Homo sapiens: one gene and its partners. The protein of the gene in region 1 purifies or fractionates together with the protein of each later gene. This does not show direct contact. Each region holds a gene or a part of one and is shown in the gene's direction. Other genes may lie near its edges.

The links. The genes of interacting proteins can lie anywhere in the genome.
Region 2: the proteins of CSNK1A1 (region 1) and HMMR purify together in Homo sapiens (affinity purification with mass spectrometry; 8 studies listed by BioGRID and IntAct, with this or other methods). This does not show direct contact.
Region 3: the proteins of CSNK1A1 (region 1) and AXIN1 purify together in Homo sapiens (co-immunoprecipitation; 4 studies listed by BioGRID and IntAct, with this or other methods). This does not show direct contact.
Region 4: the proteins of CSNK1A1 (region 1) and USP34 purify together in Homo sapiens (affinity purification with mass spectrometry; 5 studies listed by BioGRID and IntAct, with this or other methods). This does not show direct contact.

What each region holds. Positions count from the first base shown.
Region 1 is NC_000005.10:149,492,482-149,495,960, reverse strand, and holds the end of CSNK1A1 (casein kinase I isoform alpha), read left to right. Parts: 3' UTR 1-2,979; downstream 2,980-3,479.
Region 2 is NC_000005.10:163,467,132-163,470,631, forward strand, and holds part of HMMR (hyaluronan mediated motility receptor), read left to right. Parts: intron 1-569; coding exon 570-617; intron 618-2,509; coding exon 2,510-2,698; intron 2,699-3,500. UniProt on the Homo sapiens protein: Receptor for hyaluronic acid (HA). Involved in cell motility. When hyaluronan binds to HMMR, the phosphorylation of a number of proteins, including PTK2/FAK1 occurs.
Region 3 is NC_000016.10:342,724-346,223, reverse strand, and holds part of AXIN1 (axin-1), read left to right. Parts: coding exon 1-76; intron 77-3,500. UniProt on the Homo sapiens protein: Component of the beta-catenin destruction complex required for regulating CTNNB1 levels through phosphorylation and ubiquitination, and modulating Wnt-signaling.
Region 4 is NC_000002.12:61,461,088-61,464,587, reverse strand, and holds part of USP34 (ubiquitin carboxyl-terminal hydrolase 34), read left to right. Parts: intron 1-3,500. UniProt on the Homo sapiens protein: Ubiquitin hydrolase that can remove conjugated ubiquitin from AXIN1 and AXIN2, thereby acting as a regulator of Wnt signaling pathway.

The sequences.
Region 1 (3,479 bases):
ACAAAAAATGCCTTGCTGACTCACTATTAAATAAAAATCTCCCCAATTTTTTGATAGACTACTTCAAGCCATTTGTTACATGGTATTCCTTTGCAAGTCAATTTAGGTTTCGTGTTATAACTTTTCCTCTTTTTTTAAGAAAAATGAAAAAAGTAATTCTTTTGTCTGAAGGGGAAAGGCATTCTTTCATTTTTTTCTTTTTTTTTTTTTTTTTTTATGACTTGCAGGCACAATATCTAGTACTGCAACTGCCAGAACTTGGTATTGTAGCTGCTGCCCGCTGACTAGCAGCTGGACTGATTTTGAATAAAAATGAAAGCATTAAAGGGTTTCCCTACAAAACATTTTTCTTTAAAATACTTTTGAAATGGCTATAAGCAGTTGACTTTCACCCTTGGAGAGCATCACACTGTGTGAGGTTCAGTGATTGTTGACCCTCCCCAGCCCCTCCTGCTTCTTTAAGTTATCTGTGTGCGTGCGCTTCCTCTCAATCTTCTTTGCACGCTCATTTCTTTTTCTCTGACCCATGAGAAAGGAAAACTTACTGATGATAATTTTTAAATAGTGTAATTTATTCATTTATAGCATGTCAGGATAAATTAAAAGAACATTTGTCTGGAAATGCTGCCGGGAGCCTATTGTGTAAATGTAGGTATTTTGTAAAATAACCTTGAAATTGTAAATTGACACGTGTTTGGTCAGATTGTGTCAAGTTTAATTTGTTTTGTTTTCTTTTTTCTTTTTTTTATTTGAAAACTACTTTAGCAATAATTAATTCCATGATTATCACATTCTGCCATTAAGGGATATTAGTACCGTAATACTGAAGAAATTTTATTAAGTCTGAACTTCTGGGGTAGGCAGCTTCTTTGTTTCTTTTCTATCCACCCTTGTCGGTTGAGGTATTTGTTTCTTGACTAATAAACCCTTTGATACTTTTAGCCAGAAATCAGTCTCATAAAGCTATTTTTGAGTATAGTTTGTGTAAAATAAAAATGTTTAGCTTTGGTAATAACTTCCAAGCTGAACTCCCTCTAGCAAGATATTTTTCAGTGCTTTTATTTACTATGCACTTAGACTATGCACTTTTTCTGAAATATTTTTGTAACACTTTTTTGTATTTTTGCCATTTGAAAAGGTTGTGGTGTAGTTGGTCTGTAATTAAGTTGCAGATTTAAAACTGCTGTTAGCTTTGTAAATCAAAATATAGGTGTTTTTTGTCCTGGTATATCGTCATTCCATCTGCAGCTGGAGCTGGAATCCCATTGATCTTCTAGCTACCATTCATTTTCTTCACTGTTCACAAAAGAAGAGTGTGAAATTCAGTGAATGCTGTTACTAATCCTGTTACGAGATGAATCTCATTTCACCAAAATTAAATTATGTTTTTCCGCTAAAATGATGATACAAGTTGAAGACACATCACTCTGAAATTGGAAGACCTCACCACTTAAGGCTCCACAGTGGCTTACTCAGCTGAACTCTAGGTTACTACTCTTTACTTTGTTCACCCATTGGGGGGTGCAGTTTTTTTAAAATGTTGGGAGATGGCCATTCTAACTACTGTTGAATGTCTCTGTTTTGGGAAGGTATAACAAGAAATAAAAAAGAATATATATGAAGGGAGAGACTGGTTATCTCCTCCCATATGGTTGTGCTTATCCTCTTATGGCTTACAAATGAATATTTGGAGGTTTGCTTTCACAATGATTTCCCATCAACAAATATTTTTAGTAGGATTTTTCCTGTTTCTGTTAGTCCTTGCAGTACTCATAAATGTTTTAAGCTGAGCATACTGTAATAGTCATAAGTTTAATTTCATTATAATAAAAATAATCAAACAAAAGGACTTTAGAACCCAAGACAATGAGCTAGTTTTCCCTAAAGTTTGCTGAACTATTAAGGAATATGTTCTTATAGCTTTTGACTAGAATGAGTCATGGGAATTCTAAGAAGGGATGGCCTAGACATTTTTAGCTCAGTTAAATTCAGCATTTAATGCAGGTGAGTTCCTGGGTCGTTTTCCAACTAGTCTGGAACAGTCTGGTTCTGACTCAAACTGGTATAAAGCATTATTTTAGGTTTTCTCTTTGCCAGTTTTTAAGCAGTTATAACCATGTAAATCAAGATGTGAGGACATCTATATGAAGTATAGTAAAGAAGTGGTGTCAGCAGATCAATATGTGTGTCCTGGGTGTGCTGCTCTCTTAAGTGAGACTTTGTGAGACTATACTTTAAATGCATTATTACCATTGCTTACATTTTGGGGGATTTTCTTCCTCCTCAAAACTTCCATTTCTATTGTAATATTCTTAATGACAATCTTTTTTTTTTTTTAGCAGTGTATGTTTGAAACAGCCAAAGATGGCGATGAACCAAGTGTAAATTGATCTAAGCAGCCCATGCAGTTTGTGTTGAATCAACAAACAGTGTATTGTTGAAGTGAAATTATTTTCTGAAATGACTTGTTAGACCAGTTTTGAGGACATACTCAAAAGTAGAGTAATAATGGCTCCTGGGATGGAGAAATATGAGATGAACCTGGAACATTCTATTATGGTGCCACAAAGGAAATCTAAAAAAAAAAAAAAAAAAAAAAGTGGTTGGCTAGGAGCAGTGGCACACGCCTGTGATTCCAGCACTTTGGGAGGCCGAAGTGGGCAGGAGTTCAAGACCAGCCTGGCCAACATAGTGAAACCCTGTCTCTACTAAAAATACAAAAATTAGCCGGGTGTGGTGGCGGGCGCCTGTAATCCCAGCTTTTCAAGAGGCTGAGGCAGAAGAATCGCTTGAACCCGGGAGATGGAGGTTGCAGTGAGCTGAGATCGTGCCACTGCACTCCAGCCTGGGCGTTGCAGTGAGACTCCGTCTCAACAACAACAAAAAGGTGGATACATGTCAAAAGGGCACAGGAGCCACTTGAAGGATTATACTTGCTAAATCTGTGTCAATTATCAAAATAAACTGGTAGCAACGTTACAACTCACTGAATAAGATACCATGATTCCATGTTGACTTAAAAATGGAGAGAAGAGAAAGCTCTAACTTGAATGTCAGCTAATTTAAGGTGAAAGGATTTTATGTGTTAGAAAAATCACCATTTTGCAAACTAGTTTTCAGAATCCTTAATATATGTCATCTCTTTTATTCCTCATAACAGTAATAAGAAACAGTTAACTGTTTCAGAAAAGAGTGGGGCTGCCCAAGGCAAGGCATGTTGGTAATTGGTAAGCTTTATAGAGCCAAGACCTCAACCTGATTTTCTTGCTTTCATGCAGTTAAGCCATGGTGCTCCTCTTGTTATATCACCCTTTTAAACCCAGAGATTGATAGTATTAGCCATCATTTGCTGAGTGTCATGCACTATTCTAAGTGCTTTACATGTATTTGCCTAATCAGCGCCCTGTGAAGTACATCCTGTCTCCATTTTGCATATAAGGATACCAAAGCACAGAGTTGGAGGGAAGATAGTTATATTC
Region 2 (3,500 bases), about 14 Mb from region 1:
CTTTCTTCCATTTTTAGATGGAAAAGATATTCTTTTTCTAGCCATTGTGTCAGAAAGTCTGTTGGATATAAAAAGATATAGTGTGAAAATTATATGTCTTATTTAGAATAAAGCCAATGAGAAAATTAGAATCAGAGCTTATGCTGTTTCAGTTTTTATTTCTTTGCATCTGTATATTTTCCTCTTCGGGTATCAAAGTTTAAGTCGATTTCTCTTTGTAAGATTCTTTCTGAGATAGCATAATTAAATATTCAAGATGTGTTGCTATTTAACATTAGAGGGAGGCAGTCAGTAGCTTTATTCATAAAGTTCCACCTGTTCTTTTCACTGGGCTGATTAGGAAAATCCTGATTTATTGGGTTGAAAATTTCTAAACCTAAAATGTCTTGAGATTTTTAGAATATTTTATTTATCAGATGAGTGGCCTACACAATGTTTAACAGTGTAATGTTTAAAATAGAAACTAACTGATTGGATCCCTTCATCTTTTCTGATAACTGAAAAACAAATTTGGCTGTCATATCTGTGACATCTAAATTTGCTTATAAGTTTTTTTGGCTTTTAAACAGAAGGAATCTCAAAAGAATGATAAAGATTTGAAGATATTAGAGAAAGAGGTAAGCAGTGCTTTAAACTTAGTGAAAAGTACACATGATAGAAAGAGAGTTACACAGATTTAAGAGATAAGGATTCTGTTGCAGTGTGAGGAGTCCTGCAGTGAGGCAAACATGCCATCCAGAACAGTGCCTACAGGAAAACAGTTCTTACAGTATTTCACAGATCTATCCGGGCTATGTTAATGTGGTATGCTGGCAACGCCGAGATTAAAGATAGCCCACTTAATGAAAAACTGATAACTGAAAAATCATTATGTCAGTTGATTACAATTATATATGTGGATCAAATATTTATATCTATCCATCGTTCACAGTCTTCCTGTATGCTAACTTATGTTAACACAACATAGCTAGAGGATTTCTTAGTGAGCATGCAATCCTAGCTGGTTAGACTGTGATGAAGTTAGGCTAACTCGATGCATTGCTCTGCACAATAGGTATAGGCCTTCCTCATGGGTGAAATAACATAGAGCTGTGCTGTTTGATATGGTAGCTACTCACCACATGTGATGATCTAAATTAAATAAGAACTCAATTCCTCAGTTGCAATAATCACATTTCAAGTGCTCAGTAGCCACATGTGATTGGCAGCTACCATACTGGACAGGGCATTTCCACCATGACAGAAATTTCTATTGAACAGTACTAACCTAAAGAACCCATTTACTTTCCTAGCAATGCTAAGCAGCTCACTGTGAACTTTGCTTCTCTGCAGTCTTTTTTTTCTGTTTCCATTGCTGACCAACTCTTTTCCTCATGGATATATTCTTTCAATATATTAAAATCTTTCATTTGATTACAGTCGAATGTTGGCTTTCAACCAAGAGTATGTCAGAGTAACTGTAAATGTCTGCTCAGTTGCTCTGATTCTTTTTTATGTATTCTAATAATGTTAGCTATCATTTTACTGAGGGTACATGTAGGGGTTGATACTTACAGGAATAATCACTGAGTCTCAGTGAGATAGCTGGTAAGTGAGTGGTAGAGCCAGGATTAGAACTAATAATTTACACCAGTGACTTCATTGGGTATAGAATTTTAGGGTGGCAGGTTCCCCCCCATTATATTAAAAATATCATTTCATTGTCTTTTGGCTTCCACATTTTCTGTTGACAAATATTGGTTTGGGTTTTTTTTTGTTTTTTGTTTTTTTAATCTGGTAATAGCAGCAAGAATGATGGCTTGCCAATGCCTAGTACATTCTCCTCAGAAGCCCAGCTCTGCCTTCTTGAAATAAAAAACATTTAGCATTTTAAGCTAATTTGAATTTGTGTAATTGAAGCTAGAGAAAATAACTATTATAGGTGGAAATACCTTAAAAGTGAATAAATAGCGGCCGGGTGTGGTGGCTTACACCTGTAATCCTAGCACTTTGGGAGGCTGAGGCGGGTGGATCACGAGGTCAGGAGATCGAGACCATCCTGGCTAATATGGTGAAACCCCGTCTCTATTAAAAATACAAAAAATTAGCCGGGTGTGGTGGCCCGTGCTGGTAGTCCCAGCTATTCGGGAGGCTGAGGCAGGAGAATCGCTTGAACCCAGGAGGCGGAGCTTGCAGTGAGCCGAGATCGTGCCACTGCACTCCAGCCTGGGCAACAGAGCACAGAGCAAGACTCCATCTCAAAAAAAAAAAAAAAAAAGTGAATAGATAGCTTAATTGTACTTGGAACTTATGGCAACTAAAGTTCTTATGTTCTTAAAATGCATTAAGACTTTTAAGATGTATCATAGGTAAATATGATTATTCAAATAGCTAGTAACATTAGAATATCTACAAGCATAATGTCAAAATCAGAGATTTTTCCAGAAACTTTAGGGGTGATTATTGGTAGCATCTCCTTATGTTGGCATTCTATCAGTGAATCATTTATTATCACCTTGTTTTTGTCCAGATTCGTGTTCTTCTACAGGAACGTGGTGCCCAGGACAGGCGGATCCAGGATCTGGAAACTGAGTTGGAAAAGATGGAAGCAAGGCTAAATGCTGCACTAAGGGAAAAAACATCTCTCTCTGCAAATAATGCTACACTGGAAAAACAACTTATTGAATTGACCAGGACTAATGAACTACTAAAATCTAAGGTATCTGAGCCTCATGATAATATTTACAATTGAATAAATATAAACACGTTTTTTAGGGCCGGGCACGGTGGCTCACGCCTGTGTTCCCAGCATTTTGGGAGGCCAAGGCAGGCGGATCACCTGAGGTCGGGAGTTCGAGACCAGCCTGACCAACATGGAGAAACCCTGTCTCTACTAAAAATACAAAAATTAGCTAGGCCTATTGGCGGGCGCCTGTAATCTCAGCTACTCGGGAGGCTGAGGCAGAAGAATCACTTGAACCCAGGAGGTGGAGGTTGCAGTGAGCTGACATGGCGCCATTGCACTTCAGCCTAGGCAAGAGAGTGCGACTCCATCTCAAAAAACAAAACAAAACAAAACAACATACACCAGGCGATTCAGATTCATTTTGTTAAGCAAACATGTTTCAAGAAATCCTTTCTCAGGGACTTGCTTTAGAGTCTTGCAATGGACTTTCCAGCATATAGAGGTAAGTGACCACCCAAACAACCTTTCAAAAATGAACCAACAGGCCAGCCACAGTGGCTCACACCTGTAATTCCAGCGCTTTGGGAAGCTGAGACGGATGGATCACTTGAGGTCAGGATTTTGAGACTAGCCTAGCCTAACATGGCGAAACCCCATCTTTACTAAAAATACAAAAATTAGTCAGGTATGGTGGCGTACACCCGTAATTCCAGCTACTCAGGAGGCTGAGGCATGAGAATAGCTTGAACTCGGGAGGCTGAGGCATGAGAATAGCTTGAACTCGGGAGGTGGAAGTTGCAGTGAGCAACACGGCACTCCAGCCTGGGTGACAGAG
Region 3 (3,500 bases), on another chromosome or scaffold:
CTCAGAAGCTGCTCCTGGAGACAGCTGCCCCGAGGGTCTCCTCCAGTAGACGGTACAGCGAAGGCAGAGAGTTCAGGTGAGTCCGACGCCAGGCGTCCACTTTCTGTACTCACCTCCGAGAGCTGGAGAACAAGCCAGGGAAAGGTGCTGATGAGGCGGGCGTTAACCCACACCGGATGTCCTGCTGCCGCTGGGGTTGAATTTTGGTTCTGTTCTTATTTGTGATACTTTTGCATTTGTCATTACTTTTTTATATTTGTAATGTTGAGAACACTTTTACTGAGAACAGACTAAAATATATGACTTTATGAGTCATTAGGAACATCGGAATTCTTAGAAGTCACAATGACATGTAAACTTTACCCTTCAGCAGTAAAGTCTGTCACCTCTTAAATAGGAGCTGGATCTACCCAGTAGACATGGTCCTTTCCGCTTAATAAAGGGAGGAGTGGACGTTTCAGGGCATCGATAAGAATTGGAGAATTGGATTCTTGCTTTTTTTTTTTTTTGAGACGGAGTTTCACTTTTGTTGCTCAGGCTGGAGTGCAATGGTACAATCTCAGCTCACTGCAACCTTCGCCTCCCGGGTTTGAGCGATTCTCCTGCCTCAGCCTCCTGAGTAGCTGGGATTACAGGCATGTGCCACCACGCCCGGCTAATTTTGCATTATTAGTAGAGGTGGGGTTTCTCCATGTTGGCCAGGCTGGTCTCGAACTCCCGACCTCAGGTGATCTGCCTGCCTCGGCCTCCCAAAGTGTTGGGATTACAGGCGTGAGCCGCCGCATCCGGCCAGATTATTGCTTTTATAATGATCTTCTAAGCTTCTTCCTACAGGCTGAGAAATAGCAGGGGGGACGTTTTACGTGTGGGGAATGGTCAGAGTACTTTGAAAACTTCCTGTGGCTATAGTGGGCATTCCAGGATTGGGCCTTTTTTCCTGCCAACAAAATCTGTTGGTGCTGTTGTGTAGTCCACAGCAGCCTGGACCCTGAGGCGATCCTGGCAGGGCCTGTGGGGTGCGTGTGTTGCCTGGGAGGGAGCAGAGTGGTGCTCAGCCTTGGAACCTGTTTCTTCGTTCTTCCTTCCCTGTGATCCCTGCGTGGTTCCTGGAGGTTTATTTGGCTTTCGGGCTGGCATCTACTGTGCTTGTGAGCAGAGCGCATGCATTTCCCACTCTTTCCCTAGAGCTGGTGACCGGAGGCTCCGGCCTGTGTAACTTTGAAAGCCTGGAATTCATGTGACCCCTGCTGACCTAATCAAGACTCCGAAAGCACAGCCCCATGTGCTGGGACTCTCCTGAGGAGTTATTAAAAACTCGCATTAGTTCTTCAAGCTTACTGTGACACAGAAATTGGCTACTCGCTCATCAACACAGGATTAAACATGTCTAAGGTTAAACTTGTAGTCTAAGTGATACGATTTAAGATGGACTGTCGACTGGGCGCAGTGACTCACACCTGTAATCCCAGCACTTTGGGAGGCCGAGGCGGGCGAATCACCTGAGGTCGGGAGTTCGAGACCATCCTGGCCAACGTGGTGAATCCTCATTTCTACTAAAAATACAAAAATTAGATAGGCGAGTTGGCGCATGCCTGTAATCCCAGCTCCTCGGGAGGCTGAAGCAGGAGAATCGCTTGAACCTGGGAGGCAGAGGTTGCAGTGAGCCTTGGTTGTGCCATTGCACTCCAGCCTGGGCGACAAGAGGACAAGAGTGAAACTCTGTCTCAGAAAAAAAACAAAAAAAAAACAAAAAAGGATTGTGTAGGTTAATTGGTTAATTTTTTTTTTTTTTTTGAGATGGAGTCTTGCTCTATCGCCCAGGCTGGAGTGCGGTGGCGCCATCTCGGCTCACTGCAAGCTCCGCCTCCCAGGTTCACGCCGTTCTCCTGCCCCAGCCTCCCAAGTAGCTGGGACTACAGGCGCCCGCCACCATGCCGGCCAATTTTTTGTATTTTTAGTAGAGACTGGGTTTCACCATGTTAGCCAGGATGGTCTCGATCTCCTGACCTCGTGATCGCCTGCCTCAGTCTCCCAAAGTGCGGGGATTACAGACGTGGGCCACCACGCCCGGCCTTTTTTCCCTTTTGTTCATTGTCTTTAGCCAAGTGGTATTTATTTAGCAAGCATTTTAGGACACAATATGCCGCAAAGTTATCCTGTTGAGTAAGCCTGGTATAAACTGAGAGTTTCTTTCTTTCTTTCTTTTTTTTTTTTTTGAAATGGAGTCTCGCTCTGTCACACAGGCTGGAGTGCAGTAGCACTATCTCGCTATCTCGGCTCACTGCAACTTCTGCCTCCTGGGTTTAAGTGATTCTCCTGCCTCCCGAGTAGCTGGGATTACAGGTGTGTGCTACCATGCCTGGCTAATTTTTGTATTTGTGGTAGAGACAGCGTTTCGCCACGTTGGCCAGGATGGTCTCGAGCTCCTGGACTCCAGTGATCTCAGCCTCCCAAAGTGCTGGGATTACGGGTGGGAGCCACTGCACCTGGCTGGTTATTTTTTTTGCTTGTTTTTTTGTTTGAGATGGAGTCTCGCTCTGTCGCCCAGGCTGGAGTGCAGTAGTGCAATCTCAGCTCACTGCAACCTCTGCCTCCTGGGTTCAAGTGAGTCTCCTGCCTCAGCCTCCCGAGTAGCTGGGATTACAAGTGTGAGCTACCATGCCCAGCTAATTTTCTGTATTTTTAGTAGAGATGGGGTTTTACCACGTTGGCCAGTCTGGTCTCGAACTCCTTTCCTCAAGAGATCTGCCCGCCTCAGCCTCCCAAAGTGCTGGGATTCCAGGTGTGAGCCACTGCGCCCGGCCCCGGCTGGTTATTTTTAAGATGGGACTGAAGTTGAGGGCTGGGCTGCAGGAGGAAAATGAGCTCCGTTCTGATTTCCACTGTTGGAACCCCAGTGCCTCCCTCCCAGCCACTCTTCAGTTCTTGGCTGCGAGCAGTAGCTTTGCTGTCTGTCCTTGGTTTGCTGTATTTGTAATAAGGAACCTTTGCTATGAAATTAGTGGGATACATTGGCTTCTCCTGTCTAATTTTGTGTAGCTCTGTCTACACAGTTTGGGTCCTAACTTGACTGCTCTGGGGCTGCTGGTGGCAGAGGACCCTGGGGCTTGGGAGTCGTGTCTGCGGTTGAATCCTCTCTGTGGGAGGTGGCCTGTGGTGCAGCCTTGTGGCTTGAAGATCTCTGATGTTGGAATGGTTGCTTGTCAGCACAGACAGGGCATGAAGTCCAGGCTGCGTTCCTCACATTTAGACCATTCTCTTTGTCCTGCCAGGTGTAGGTGAGGGTGCACTAGGTTGGAAGTCGTGGAAACCCACCCACCTGAGCCCAACCCTGAAGGGCACTGTTGAGGCAGAGCCTCAGGTGTGCCTTAGGGCCTGGCACCTTTGCTTTGTGCCATTCTGACTTTGCCTGCCTGGTGGGCGACTTCGTGGGCTTTGTGTTGGAGGTGGCTGCTGCAGTGACCTTGGGCTCTGGGCTCCCTTGTTTACAGATGCTTCCC
Region 4 (3,500 bases), on another chromosome or scaffold:
TATGTGTTGTAGATTTTACTCTGTGTATTCGTTTGGTGGGTTATAGTTTACCAAGTTGTCCAAAATGGATAATTCATGTGAGATAGGCAAGAGCAAGTGTTGTATCCCAATACCATTTGGTGAAAAAGTTGAACTTCAGAAAGGATAAGTAGTTTGCCAAGATCACCTGTCAACCTGCATAGTCAAATTTGAGATGGAACTCAGCTACTCCAATATCTGTATTTGCAGAATAATTCTGTTGTGTTTATTTTGTTGGTGGTGGTGTTTTTGAGACGGAGTCTCACTCTGTTGCCCAGGCTGCAGTGCAATGGCACGATCTCAGCTCACTGCAACTTCCACCTCCTTGCTTCAAGTGATTCTCCTGCCTCATCCTCCTGAGTAGCTGGAATTAGAGGCGCCTGCCACCACGCCCAGCTAATGTTTGTATTTTTAGTCGAGACTAATTTTCACCAGTTTGGCCACACTGGTCTTGAACTAATGATGTCAGGTGATCCACCTGCCTCGGCCTTTCAGTGTGTTTTATTTTTAAAGCAGATTACTTTATTGAATAGTTTGTGTTGGGTACTTAAGTACTTTACATGCTTTGCATGCTGCTGATTTAATCAGTTCTTTGAGGGAGGTACTCTGTCATCCTTTTCAGATGAGGGAACTAAGGTTTAGAGAATTTATGTGACTTGCTTAGGGTCACATGTGACTGTTTGGTGGAACCACAGGACTTAATCCCAGATTAGGCTAAGAGTTTTTTTTTTTTTTGAAAAGGAATTTTGTTCCTGTTGCCCAGGCTGGTGTGCAATGGCATGATCTCGGCTCATTGCAACCTCCGCCTCCTGGGTTCAAGCGATTCTCCTGCCTCAGCCTCCTGAGTAGCTGGGATTACAGGCATGCACCACCATGCCTGGCTAATTTTTGTAATTTTAGTCGATGTGGGGTTTCACCATGTTGGCCAGGATGGTCTTGAATTCCTGACCCCAGGTAATCCGCCTCCCTTGGCCTCCCAAAGTGTTGGGTTTAGGGGTGTGAGCCATCCTGCCTGGCCTAAAAGTTCTTACTAGTTAACATTGTATAAATTTTATGATGATCTATCTGAATCACCACTGTTCAGTTGGCAAAGTGAAAATTACTGACCGTGTTTTATGTATCTTCAAAAATTCAGACAAATTTCTGTGATAATTGTAGTAGGAATTCAAAAGTGGTAATAAGTATAGCTGAATAAGAATCTTTTTCATTGAATAAAATTTCAAATTTTTTGATTTTTGATTATTTTTTAAGAGACAGTGTATCACCCATGCTGGGGTGCAGTGGCCCAATTATAGCTCACTGCAGCCTCAAGCTCCTGGGCTCAAGTGATGCTCCTGCCTCAGCCTCCCAAAGTGTTGGGGTATGCTGTACCCGGCTGAGAATCTTTCTTAATACTGTTATTCTGCAGTGAACCGTTTAATAAAACTACATGTTTCCAGAGCTTTTTAGATACTATGAGTATATAGGTACGAAATCAATTAGTAACATAACTTTTTCAGTAGACATTTAATCTAAAGTTGGAATTTTTTTCCCCCCTTTGGAGATGGAGTCTTATTCTGTCATCCAGGCTGGAGTGCAATGAAGTGATTATTGCTTACTATAACTTGACCTCCTGGGCTCAAGTGATTTTCCTGTCTCACCCTCCTGAGTAGCAGGGACTATAGGTGTGTATACCAGCACACCTGGCTGCCTTTTTTTTTTTTTTTTTGGGAAACAGTTTCCCTCTGTCTCCCAGGCTGGAGTGCATTGGTACAGTCTCGGCTCACTGCACCCTCTGCCTTGGGGGGCTCAAGCAGTTCTTGTGCCTCACCCTCCCAAGTAGCTGGGATTATAGGCATGTGCCATCATGCCGGGCTAATTTTTGTATATTTAGTAGAGATGGGGTTTCGCCATGTTGGTCAGGCTGGTCTCAAACTCCTGGCCTCAAGTGATCCGCTTGCCTCAGCCTCCCAGAGTGCTGGGATTACAGGGTGTGAGCTACTTTGTCCGGTTCTCCTGAATTGATTTTTTTTTTTTTTTTGGAGACGGAGTCTTACTCTGTGGCCCAGGCTGGAGTGCAGTGGCATGATCTTGGCTCACTTCAACCTCCTCTTCCTGGGTTCAAGCAATTCTCCTGCCTCAGCTTCCCAAGTAGCTGGGATTACAGGTGCGTACCACCATGCCCAGCTAATATTTGTGTTTTTTGTAGGAATGGGGCTTCACTGTTTTGCCCAGGCTGTTCTCAAACTCCTAGCCTCAAGTGATTCACCCACCTCGGCCTCCCAAACTGCTGGGATTACAGGCATGAGCCACCACGCCTGGCTGATTTTCTTTTTTTTTTTTTTCCCCCTGAGATGGAGTCTTGTTCTGTTGCCCCAGGCTGGAGTGCGATGGCCTGATCTTGGCTCACTGCAACCTCCGCCTCCCGGGTTCAAGCGATTTTCCTGCCTCAACCTCCTGGGTAGCTGTGATTACAGGCAACTGCCACCATGCCTGACTAATTTTTGTTACGTTTAGTAGAGATGAGGTTTCACCATGTTGGCCAGGCTGGTCTTGAACTCCTGACCTCATGATCTGCCCACCTCGGCCCCCTAAAATGCTGTGACTACAGGTGTGAGCCACCGCGTCTGGCTGAAAACATGTTTTTGTATAAGATTTCATTTTATATAAAATTTAATATATCTGTTTCCAGTTCTCCCATATTATGAATAATGCCGCAAATGTACATCTTTCTACTTAAATCTTTTATCTACATCCCTGGTTCTTTTAGATTTCTAGACGTGAGTTTACTGTGTCAAAAAATATAAACATTTTTCATTATTTTCATACTGTTTGCTTGCCAGAAAGGATATATTGATCTTTTAGTCGTAGTCGTGCCTGTGTAAGGGCACTTTCACCTGTCTTGAATATTATCCTTTAGAAAGTGTTATTTTAGCAGGGCATGGTGATGTGTGCCTGTAGTATTCCCAGCTACTCAGGAGGCTGAGGTGGGAGGATCACTTGAGCCCTGGAATTCAAGGCTAGCCTGGGCAACATAGCAAGACTTCATCTCTTAAAATAAAAGTTATTTTGGTAGAGAATGTATTAAGCAATTACTAGTAAATTTAACCATTCATATTTTTGTTATTTAATGAATTGTATGTTTTTTTTTCTGTATTTCAGATTTCAGTGTTTTGGGTTTTTTTTTTTATTTTTTTGAGGCGGAATTTCGCTCTTGTTCACTAGGGTGGAGTGCAATGGTGCCATCTCGGCTCACTGCAACCTCTGCCTCCCAGGTTCAAGTGATTCTCCTGCCTCAGACTCCCGAGTAGCTGGGATTACAGGGGCCTGCCACCATGCCTGGCTAATTCTTTTGCATTTTTAGTAGAGACAGGGTTTCATCCTGTTGGCCAGGCTGGTCTTGAACTCCTGAGCTCAAGTCATCCACCTGCCTCAGCCTCCCAAAATGCTGAGATTACAGTTGTGAGCCACCCTGCCCGGCCCCTCTTACCTTCTTTCAAAAT